Linked DNA regions of Homo sapiens: region 2 is reported to be linked to region 1. The links are microRNA targets in miRTarBase. Many come from high-throughput screens and were not tested one by one. Region 1 holds a microRNA gene; the other region holds the end of a gene's coding sequence. Distances are between the middles of the regions.
The links. Region 1 holds the annotated microRNA hsa-miR-1976 (CCUCCUGCCCUCCUUGCUGU, at 3,460-3,479, shown strand). A microRNA usually pairs through its seed, bases 2 to 8, with sites in the 3' UTR of a target mRNA and lowers its output. Matches are read on the target gene's strand: a 7mer-m8 pairs with bases 2 to 8, a 7mer-A1 pairs with bases 2 to 7 and ends in A, and an 8mer does both.

Region 2: the mRNA of SLC25A33 is a reported target of hsa-miR-1976. Seed matches in the 3' UTR shown: 8mer at 1,207-1,214, 7mer-A1 at 1,866-1,872 and 8mer at 1,985-1,992.

What each region holds. Positions count from the first base shown.
Region 1 is chr1:26,551,115-26,556,485 of GRCh38, forward strand. MIR1976 (microRNA 1976) reads left to right here and starts at 3,428; the gene lies at 3,428-3,479. It overlaps RPS6KA1 (ribosomal protein S6 kinase A1), which reads left to right. Exons shown (of 22, transcript NM_002953.4): 5 at 283-363; 6 at 530-609; 7 at 2,277-2,383; 8 at 3,100-3,137; 9 at 3,482-3,624; 10 at 4,037-4,107; 11 at 4,423-4,511.
Region 2 is chr1:9,581,915-9,587,285 of GRCh38, forward strand. SLC25A33 (solute carrier family 25 member 33) reads left to right here. Exons shown (of 7, transcript NM_032315.3): 7 at 385-3,259. The coding sequence ends at 587. Among named protein-coding and RNA genes, the nearest start is that of TMEM201, 4.3 kb to the right of the region's middle.

The DNA of each region.
Region 1 (5,371 bases):
GATGGGGTCTGGTGGGAAAAGGGACCAGAGAGATGGGCAGGGTGCCAAGGCCCCAGCTGTGGGCACTGCTGTGAGGGGTGGGGACAAGGAGCCAGCCAAGGAGCCAGAAACAGACTGGCAAGGAGGAAACCTGAGGATTGAGTGTCCCCAAAGCCCTGGGTGAGGGGGCTTTGGGAGCTCAGGCCTGGAGGAACAAGTGGAAAAGAGATCCCTTAGCGGGGGCTTGGGAGTGGCTGTGTTGAGTGTCTAGGCTACTGGTGACTTCCTTTCTCGTCTGGCCAGTACGTGACCGCGTCCGGACCAAGATGGAGAGAGACATCCTGGCTGATGTAAATCACCCATTCGTGGTGAAGCTGCACTATGGTAAAGCTTCTGGCCCTGCCTGAGCTCCTACCCCACCCATCCTTCGCCCTTGCCTGTGGTCTGTACACTGTCCCACCGCCTGCCTGGCAGGCCAAGGGAGCCAGGGCCGGAGAAGCAGATCATAAGGCCGCGCCGACTCTACCATTGCCTTTCTCCCTCTTCCCAGCCTTCCAGACCGAGGGCAAGCTCTATCTCATTCTGGACTTCCTGCGTGGTGGGGACCTCTTCACCCGGCTCTCAAAAGAGGTGAGCTGACATCTACTGCCAGAGGGCCCCGGGATGGAGCTGAGGGACGACAAGTCCTCCCATCCCAGGGCCCTGTACAGAATGTGTTTGGTATGGCTTGAACCTGGAACCACCCAGGCCTGCCTAGCAGCCCCTGGCCCAGGAAATACCACGCACCCTGGAATGGAGGCCATACGCTGGCAAGGTCTCTGAGAGTTTCTCCCAAGGAAACTCCAGGGAGCTAAGGGTTCCTCTCACCTCTGCACCTGCCTTCTTCCAGGGCTGCTCTGGGCAGAGGTGTGAAGATAGGGGAGAAGCCCAAAGTCACCCAGAGAGCCAGAGACTTTAGCAGTCATCTTGCGTATGTCATCCAAAAGGATTTTGAACCAATATAAAAGGATTTGAGGCTGGGCGCAGCGGCTCACGCCTGTTATCCCAGCACTTTGGGAGGCCGAGGTGGGCAGATCAGGAGGTCAGGAGATCAAGACCATCCTGCCCAACATGGTGAAACCCCGTCTCTACTAAAAATACAAAAATTAGCTGGGTATGGTGGAGTGTGCCTGTAATCCCAGCTACTCAGGAAGCGGAGGCACAAGAATCGCTTGAACCCAGGAGGCAGAGGTTGCAGTGAGCCAAGATCGCGCCACTGCACTCCAGCTTGGCAACAGAGCGAGACTCTGTCTCAAAAAAAAAAAAAAAAAAAAAAAGGATTTGAGCTAGAAAATGGGACCATTCGTACAATTCAAACTTTAAAGAGAATCTAGCTTTTTTTTTTTTTAATTGTAATTTTTTTTTTTTTTTCAGATGGAGTTTTGCTCTTGTCACCCAGGCTGGAGTGCACTGGTGGGGTCTCAGCTCACTGCAACCTCCGCCTCCCGGGTTCAAGCAATTCTCCTGCCTCAGCCTCCCGAGTAGCTGGGATGACAGGTGCACGCCACCACGCCTGGTTAATTTTTGTATTTTTGGTAGAGACAGGGTTTCTCCATGTTGGCCAGGCTGGTCTCGAACTCCTGACCTCGGGTGATCCGCCTGCCTCAGCCTCCCAAACTGCTGGCTGGGATTATAGGTGTGAGCCACCGTGCCCGGCTTAAATTGTGATTTTAATGTTTGAATAGGTAATATACATGATTCAAAAGAAAAATATTCATGAAGAAGTCTTCCTCCCACCCCAGCCCCCTCTATTCCCATCTATAGGTAAACATTTTTATTGGTTTCTTGTTTAACTTTCCCATGTTTCTTTTGCAAACAAATCCGATATATGTTCATTCCTACCCCCATTTCCTTATGTAAAAAGTACTATTCTGTATACACTGTTCTGTACCTTGCTTTTTTCAAGATAGTATATCTTGGAGCTCACTCCATGTCAGAACACGGAGAAACTCCTTGTTCCAGTTCATGGCTGCAAAGCACTCCATTATGCAGGGGAGAGGGCTGATTCCAGCCTTCTACTCTTGGACCCTAGGCCTGTTTCCCACCCCTTCTATTTCTGAATGGTGCCACAATGAGTGGCTTGCGTATTAGTCATTTCATACTTCAAATCCTTTGTATGATGAGAAGGCTATATGGCCTGGGGTTTCCAAGGGTCCTCCCAGGGTGGCTCTTCAGGACCAGGAAGCTGCTGACTGCCCAGTGCCCCAGCTCTTAAGGAAGAGGAGGTCCCTGCTGAAGGCCCCTCCTGTCTTTTGCAGGTGATGTTCACGGAGGAGGATGTGAAGTTTTACCTGGCTGAGCTGGCTCTGGGCCTGGATCACCTGCACAGCCTGGGTATCATTTACAGAGACCTCAAGCCTGAGAAGTGAGTGAAGCCTCCAGCCCCACCCCAGCCTCCCCAGGGGAGGCCTCTTCTAGGACAGGGCCATCCTGAGGTGGGTGGGCATGGCTTTCTCCAGAAACGTCTCCCTCTCTTGGGCAATCTGAGGGATGGGTGAGTGGGGTGGGTGGTAGTGCCAGCTGCCCAGTCACTAATGCTACCATTACCAAGGGCCAGGTACTTTGCATGCAGGTAATGTTGCCCGTCTTTTTTTGCTAATCTAGTGTGACATTTGAGATGCCACCTTTAGAGGTCTTTCCTTGATAAAGCCCTATAGAATTTTCCCTAATATCTAACTACCCTCAAATGATAACTAAGGAGCCAGGGGCAGGTGGTGAGTTGGAATAAGATCTGGCTTTAGTGTTAGGCAGCCCTGTATTCAAATCCTGTCTCCACCTACTAGCTAGACTTACTAGCTCAATGACTGTAGAGCTACTTAACTGCCCTGAGCCTTAGTTTTCCCATTAGCAAAACGGGGCCCTAATAGTACTTGCCTCACACAGTTGCTTCAAGGATTAGCAAAAAAGATAGGCAACACCCCTGCGTGGTACTGCTACCACCCTGCAACACCCGCCCAGTCATCAGAGAGAATTGGGTGGAGCACCTCCTCTGGGCTGAACCCAACTCCCACAGCCCTGTGGTAACACCATCACCCACACGGCCACAGCTGAGGGGCCCTGACCACTATTTCTCTATTACAGCATCCTTCTGGATGAGGAGGGCCACATCAAACTCACTGGTGAGTGGAGGGCGCCTGCCCCCTCGGGACCCAGGGGAGGACAGGACAAGGTCATGATAGGTCTCGGCTGAGTGCTGGGGGCTCATTCTTCCCGAGAAGCCGTGCCAGTTACTTGGAAGTGGTCAAAAACTCAGGCCTCAGACTTGGAACACCCTCAGCTGGAATCCCAGCCCCTCATTGTGTAACGTTGAGCAAGTCACCTGACCTCTCTGGGCCTTAGCTTCCTCCTGAGTGTCATGGGGGTGATGCCTTCTGGCCTCTGGGCACGGGGGTTGGGTGTGCAAAGGGTGGCAGCAAGGAAGGCAGGGGTCCTAAGGTGTGTCCTCCTGCCCTCCTTGCTGTAGACTTTGGCCTGAGCAAAGAGGCCATTGACCACGAGAAGAAGGCCTATTCTTTCTGCGGGACAGTGGAGTACATGGCCCCTGAGGTCGTCAACCGCCAGGGCCACTCCCATAGTGCGGACTGGTGGTCCTATGGGGTGTTGATGGTGAGTGCCCAGACAGGGGTAAAGGATCCAGCCCAAGCCTCTGGCCTCAGTCTCCCTATCTGTACAGTGAGGGGGTTGATCATTTCTAGGGCTCTCCCCGTCTCCTCTCACAGCCAAGCTGGCCTCACCCTATATGCACCTGCAGTTTTCTTCCTTGGAAGGATCCCAGGCTTGACCCCACCTGGGACGCGCCTAACCCAGTGCTGGCCTTCTCCCCAGCCTCGCGCCCCCACCGCTGCTCCTGGTGGTCTGGTTGGCAGAGGCAAGAGGGACGGGCATAATTCTTGCTCCAGGCTGACTTGGATGTATCAGCAAGAATCCTGGGACTGGGGCAGAGGGGTCTGACTGGGAGGAGGCGGGAGGTGTGTCGGAGACAGGGATCAGAGCCTGAATAGATCCTTGTCCTCTGCAGTTTGAGATGCTGACGGGCTCCCTGCCCTTCCAGGGGAAGGACCGGAAGGAGACCATGACACTGATTCTGAAGTAAGCCCCAGCCCTGCCCTGATAACAATGGACTCCTCCAAGCCCCAGCCCCAGTTTGGGGGTCAGAATATTATTACCCTGTCCCTGCCTCAGCTACCCTCTCTAATGAGACTCTCCTCTGGGTTAAACATTATACCTTCCAGAGCCCCTCTTTCATCCCTGGGGGCCTGTGGGTAGGATCCCTGAAGCCTTTGGGAAGTGAATTAGTGGATGGCTTGTCTAGACTGAGCTGGGAACTAGATCTGGACAGGGGCCGGGGGAGATGGGGCCTCTGGGGCAGGGCTCAGCCTTGATGAGTCCCGGGGGCTGTTTCAGGGCGAAGCTAGGCATGCCCCAGTTTCTGAGCACTGAAGCCCAGAGCCTCTTGCGGGCCCTGTTCAAGCGGAATCCTGCCAACCGGCTCGGTAAGCAGCCCCAGCTCAGGGGAGGGGATGTGGCGATGGGGAGCCGGGTACAGCTGCAGCCTAGGCCACAGGGCCACATCTGGGCTGAAAGGGGCCGTTGTCCTTTGTGTGGGCAGACAATGCCGCGGGCCACCCTGCTTTCTGGCTCCATGTGTGGTGTTGTGGAGGGGGGAGTTGACCTGTGTGTAGGGGGAAGGCAGGAACTGAGTCATCCCTACTCCCTCTGGGGACAAGGACAGAGGCCCCCACACAGCTTCTCCGCCAAGGCTGCTGGCACAAGAGAAATAGCATGAGCTCAGGAGTCAGAAGGCATAGGTCCCAATCCCGGCTCTGTGTCAGGTCCCCACTGCCTGGCACAAAACAGTCCCTCTATAAATATTTGTTAAACGAATGAGGCCACTTATGAACTAAGTGACCCCAGGCAGGTGACTTCACCTCTCTGCACCGCAGGTTCCTCGTCTCAATGGGAGATGATGATCCCAAGCTTGCTTCAGGGCTCTGTTGATGAAATGAGGTTGTGTGAACATGCCGGCATGTAGTAGGTGTCCAGTGTGTGCTGGCTTCCCTGGCTCCTGGGTTCATCTGGTCCATGACCAGCTGTGTAAGGTCCAGTCAAGGCCCCTGGGGTCGAATGGAGTAACAGCCTGTCCTATGGTTGAAAAGGTCAATGGGATAAGAGGAACAGAGATGAGGCTTGCCTTGGAATGAGGTGGGGCTCTCTGTAGGTCTCAGAACAAGCTCAGCTTCTGTTCTAACTGTGTGGCCTTGGAGAAGTTGCCTAAAGTCTCTGGGCCTTCCTCCTCCCACTGGTACATTGGAATTTCTTCATCAGAAGCTCCAGAAAGTGGAAAATGCTGAGT
Region 2 (5,371 bases), 17 Mb from region 1:
TTTATTTTATTTATTTATTTTTTGAGACAGAGTCTTGCTTGCTCCGTGGCCCAGGCTGGAGTGTAGTGGCACGATCCCGACTCATTGCGACCTTCACCTCCCAGGTTCAAGCGATCCTCATTCCTCAGCCACTCTAGTAGTAGGCGTGCACCACCTTGCCTGGCTAATTTTTGTTTTTCAGTAGAGACGGGGTTTCACCATGTTGGCCAGGCTGGTCTCCAACTCCTGGCCTCAAGTGATCCACCCGCCTCGGCCTCCCAAAGTTCTGGGATTACAGGTGTGAGCCACCGCACCCGGCCTAACCTTGACAGTTTTAAAGTTGTGTGCTGTGGATTCGTTCCCCATTTAATATGTGGCGTAAAGTAGGTCTTTCTCTCTCTGCAGAAGTCATAAGGACGAGGCTCCGGGAAGAGGGCACCAAGTACAAGTCTTTTGTCCAGACGGCGCGCCTGGTGTTCCGGGAAGAAGGCTACCTTGCCTTTTATAGAGGACTGTTTGCCCAGCTTATCCGGCAGATCCCAAATACTGCCATTGTGTTGTCTACTTATGAGTTAATTGTGTACCTGTTAGAAGACCGTACTCAGTAACAGGCCGGAAAATTGTGCTCTAGAAGAATAAAACTGAAAAACTCTAGAGAATTTTTTTTCCCCATTGATGTTTAGAAAGTTTGAGACTGAAACAGGAAAGGCCATAAAATATCTGGTTCATATCACCTGTTGGACATTTCCTTTTGGATTCATGCTTTCTGGAAGGTTTAAATTCATTAACGTTAATAGTTAATTATAACTTTTTTTTTAACTTAAGAGGATTCAGGGTTAAGCACCAACTAAATTAAATCATGCTATTTAATTTAAGTATACATTTGGCTTGTGTCCTCTTTTATGCTCACTATACTATGAAGGACTTAAGTAATTCAGATAAACCTGCCCTAGAACTGCAGAGAAAAATGATAAAGTGAGAATACAACTTGTTTTATAATCTGACTTTAAGATCTTGCACTGCTAGACAGGGAAGAAGTGTCGCATTTTGGCTGGGCACTGTGGCTCACGCCCGTAATCCCAGCACTTTGGGAGGCCGAGGCAGATGGATCACGTGAAGTCAGGAGTTCCAGACCAGCCTGGCCAACATGGCGAAACCCTGTCTCTACTAAAAATACAAAAATTAGCCGGACGTGTGCCTGTAATCCCAGCTACTTGGGAGGCTGAGGCAGGAGAATCACTTGAAACCCAGGGGGCAGAGGTTGCAGCGAGCTGAGATCACGTCACTTCACTCCAGCCTGGTCGACAGAGTGAGACTCCATCTCAAAAAAAAAAAAATTGTGTCACATTTTGGTGGTGGTGTGTGGACCAGGACAAACTTCCCAGCAATTTTTCTTCTTTGTACATTTCCAATTACTTGCAGATTGATCATCTAAGCGTTCAGACTGCTGAGATGAATATATATAACTTTCTGAGACTCAATATTTTAAGCTATAAAAAACTTCCTGAAGTTATCCTTTTCTCCCTACTTTGAACCAAAGGCAAGAATTTTTAAAGAACTGTTTTATCAATGGCCTGGCTCCTGGATATAGTTCCGGAAGTTAAGACCAGTTGCCTTGTTAAGTGTGTTGACAGCACAGCTACCCTGTTTGGCTGTGAATCCAGAATGTGATGAAGAACAGTCATTCCCACTGAGGTCTTTAGCCCTGTTCTTGGACCTCTGCTCTTGCAGAAAAGGAGCACAACGTAGGACTATGGCTCACCCGTCAGAGAGCTCACATTCTGATAGAAAGCACTGGGATTGTTTAAATATCCTAGTTCAACATTAAAAAAAAAAAAAATTTAATCCCAGCACTTTGGGAGGCCAAGGCGGGCAGATCACGAGGTCAGGAGATCGAGACCATCCTGGCTAACACGGTGAAACCCCGTCTCTACTAAAAAAATACAAAAAAATTGGCCATGCGTGGTGGCGGGCACCCATAGTCCCAGCTACTCGGGAGGCTGAGGCAGGAGAATGGCGTGAACCTGGGAGGCGGAGCTTGCAGTGAGCTGAGATGGCGCCACTGCACTCCAGCCTGGGCCACAGAGTGCGACTCCATCTCAAAAAAAAAAAAAAAACCAGGATGTTACCCCCTTGGTTTTAAAGCAAATTTAATAAGGGAACAAAAAGATGATACTAAGAAGAAGGCAAGTAAAACCCCTAGTCTTCCATTAGCTCTTTCACTGGAATTTGAGTATATTGTACATGAAGGTTGGTTTTCAATTTGAACGTCTAGAAAGATACTCATTTCTAATACCTATGCACTGTAGTTTCAGGTTTACTTGCAGACACCCTGGTAGGGTTAAGAGGAGGATATTTCCAAGTTATTTTAAATTGAGTTTACTTTTAACTGGGGTTCTTGACTCTAGTGTAATTGCTCCAACAACTACGTAGAAGTCAAAATGAGTGACTTTAGTGAAGCTTCTGTACTTTACAATACATGACAGTAATGCTATTCCAGAAGTTTTGTTTTGTTTTGTTTTGAGATGGAGTCTCGCTCTGTCTCTCCCAGGCTGGAGTGCAGTGGCACAATCTCGGCTCACTACAGCCTCCACCTCCCGGTTTCAAGCAATTCTCCTGTCTTAGCCTCCTGAGTAGCTGGGACTACAGGCATGCGCCACCACACCTGGCTAATTTTGTATTTTTAGTAGAGATGGGGTTTCACCATGTTGGCCAGGCTGGTCTCAAACTCTTGACCTCAGGTGATCTACCCGCCTCGGCCTCCCAAAGTACTGGGATTACAGGAGGGAGCCACCATACCTGGCCCGCGCCGCCCCTTCCTTTGTTGTTATTGTTGTTTTGAGACAAGGTATCACTCGATCACTGAAGCTGGATACAGTGGCAAGATCATAGCTCACTGTAACCTCAAACTCCTGGGCACAAGGGATCCTCGCATCTCAGCCTCCCAAGTAGCTTGGACCACAGGAAAGTACCACCATGCCCAGCTAATGTTTTTTCATTTTTTGTGCAGACGAGGTTTTGCTATGTTGTCCAGGCTGGTCTCAGACTACTGGCCAGAAGCGATCTTACCTCCTCAGCCTCCCAAAGCACTGGAATTACAGAGTAACATCTAATTTTAATATTCACATTCCTATTTTAATATTCATATTCGATGATGGCACTTAGCAACATCCTCCTATATCCATATTAAAACCTGTTTTCCAAGATTGTGTCTAATATGAAGGTGTAAAATTGCTTTGTTTTCACTCCTTCTTGAATGAATAAATTTGATAGTAACCAATTATAATTTTAGTTTTCTGCTTCTCCTGCCCCAGGGCATGGAAATGCAAGCTGCTTAGGCACCCAAAGTAGGAAAGAAGTGATGGTTCCTCTGTAAAGGGCTCATTAGCTTTAAAAATGGGAAATACCTGTGGTTTTTCTCTTAATTTTTGTGGGTATATAGGAGGTATATATATTTATGGGGTACATGAGATGTTTTGATACAGGCGTGCAACGTGAAATAAGCACATCATGAAGAATGGGGTATCCATCCCTTCAAGCGTGTATCCATTGAGTTGCAAACAATCCAGTTACACTCTTGTTATTCTGAAATGCACAGTTAATGTTGGGGTTGGGTGGTTCACGCTTGTAATCCCAGCACTTTGGGAGGGTGAGGCAGGTGGAGGATCACTTGCGCTCAGGAGTTCGAGACCAGCCTGGCAACATGGTGAAACCCTGTCTTTATTTAAAAAAAAAAAAAAAAGCTGGGTGCGGTGGTGTGCACTTGTGGTCTCAGCTACTCCAGAGGCTGAGGCAGGAGAATGAAGGACTTGAGCCCAGGAGGCGGAGGTTGCCGTGAGCTGAGATGGCACCATTGCAGTCCAGCTTGGGTGACAGGAGTGACCCTGTCTCAAAAGTACGATTAAATTATTATTGACTGTAGTCATCCTGTTGTGCTTTTTTCTTTCTCTTTTTTTAATATAAAGATTTTTTAAATTAAAACAATTTTTTTTTGAGACGGAGTCTCGCTCTGTGGCCCAGGCTGAAGTGCAATGGCATGATCTCGGCTCACTGCAACCTCCACCTCCTGGGTTCAAGCGATTCTCCTGCCTCAGCCTCCCAAGTATCTGGAATTACAGGTGCCCGCCACCACGCCTGGCTAATTTTTGTATTTTTAGTAGAGACAGGGTTTCACCATATTGGCCAGGCTGGTCTCAAACTCCTGATCTCAAGTTATCTGCCTGCCTTGGCCTCCCAAAGTGCTGGGATTACAGGCATTAGCCACCTTGCGGTAGCTCACACCTGTAATCCCAGCACTTTGGGAGGCTGAGGAAGGAGAATTGCTTGAGGCCAGGAGTTCAAGGCCAGCCTGGGCAACATAGGGAGACCTTCTCTTTACAAAAAAATTAGCTGAGCATGCACCTGTAGTCCCAGCTACTTGGGAGGCTGAGGTGGGAGGATCCCTTGAGGCCAGGAGGTTGAGGCTGCAGTGAGCCATGGGATTGTGCCACTCTACTCCAATCTGGACGACAGAGCAAGAGGGGCATCTGAGCCTGTGGAATGGTCTGACTTCAAAGTCAAGATCTGACAAACCATTTCATTCCTTTTACTTAAGAATTACAGATCCATGGATGATACTGCTGATAAAGGTGTGCTTAAACTAATGCACGTAATAGAATTGGCCACATAAAGAGTCCTTTGGGTGGGACATGCAAACTGAATCTTCCTTGGGAAGCAAATGGCACTTAAACACAATGCCTGCCTGCTGTTTTGAGGGAAGATACACCTTAAATGATTATTTTGTTTGCTCATGGCTGGTGAAAGCATCAAGACTGCATGGAAAGGCTTTTGCTGGGATACTCACAAGAAAGAGGAGGTCCAGACCCAAGTGAACCTCCAGGTTTCCTGTCTGCTTCACTTTCCAGTCCCCCTTCCCCCCAGTGAATGTGCATGATTCCGGTGTGGACAGAGGAACTGGCTGCAGGAGCAAAAAAACATTTGCCCTCAATCCATCACTACCCACAAAGAGTTTACAATGTTAACCTCAAAAAAAAAAAAGTGATCAGAACACTGGAACATAGTGTGTAATTAGATACAAATATTTTCTGTTTACTTTTTTAAAACTAGTAATTTAGCTGAAATCAATAATGAAACACAGTGACTCTTCCCCTTGAATCTCCTCCCACCACCAGGTAATCAGTTTGCAGTTCAGTGTTAACTATTCTCCACTTCCCACAAGCACATAAGGCTTTATTTAAGCTTTGGATATTATTTAAAAATCAATCTGCATGTTGCTTTTTCTTTTTCTTTTTCTTTTTTTTTTTTTTTTTGAGATGGAGTCTCACTCTGTTGCCAGGCTGGAGTGCAGTGACGCAACCTCAGCTCGCTGCAACCTCCGCCTCCTGGGTTCAAG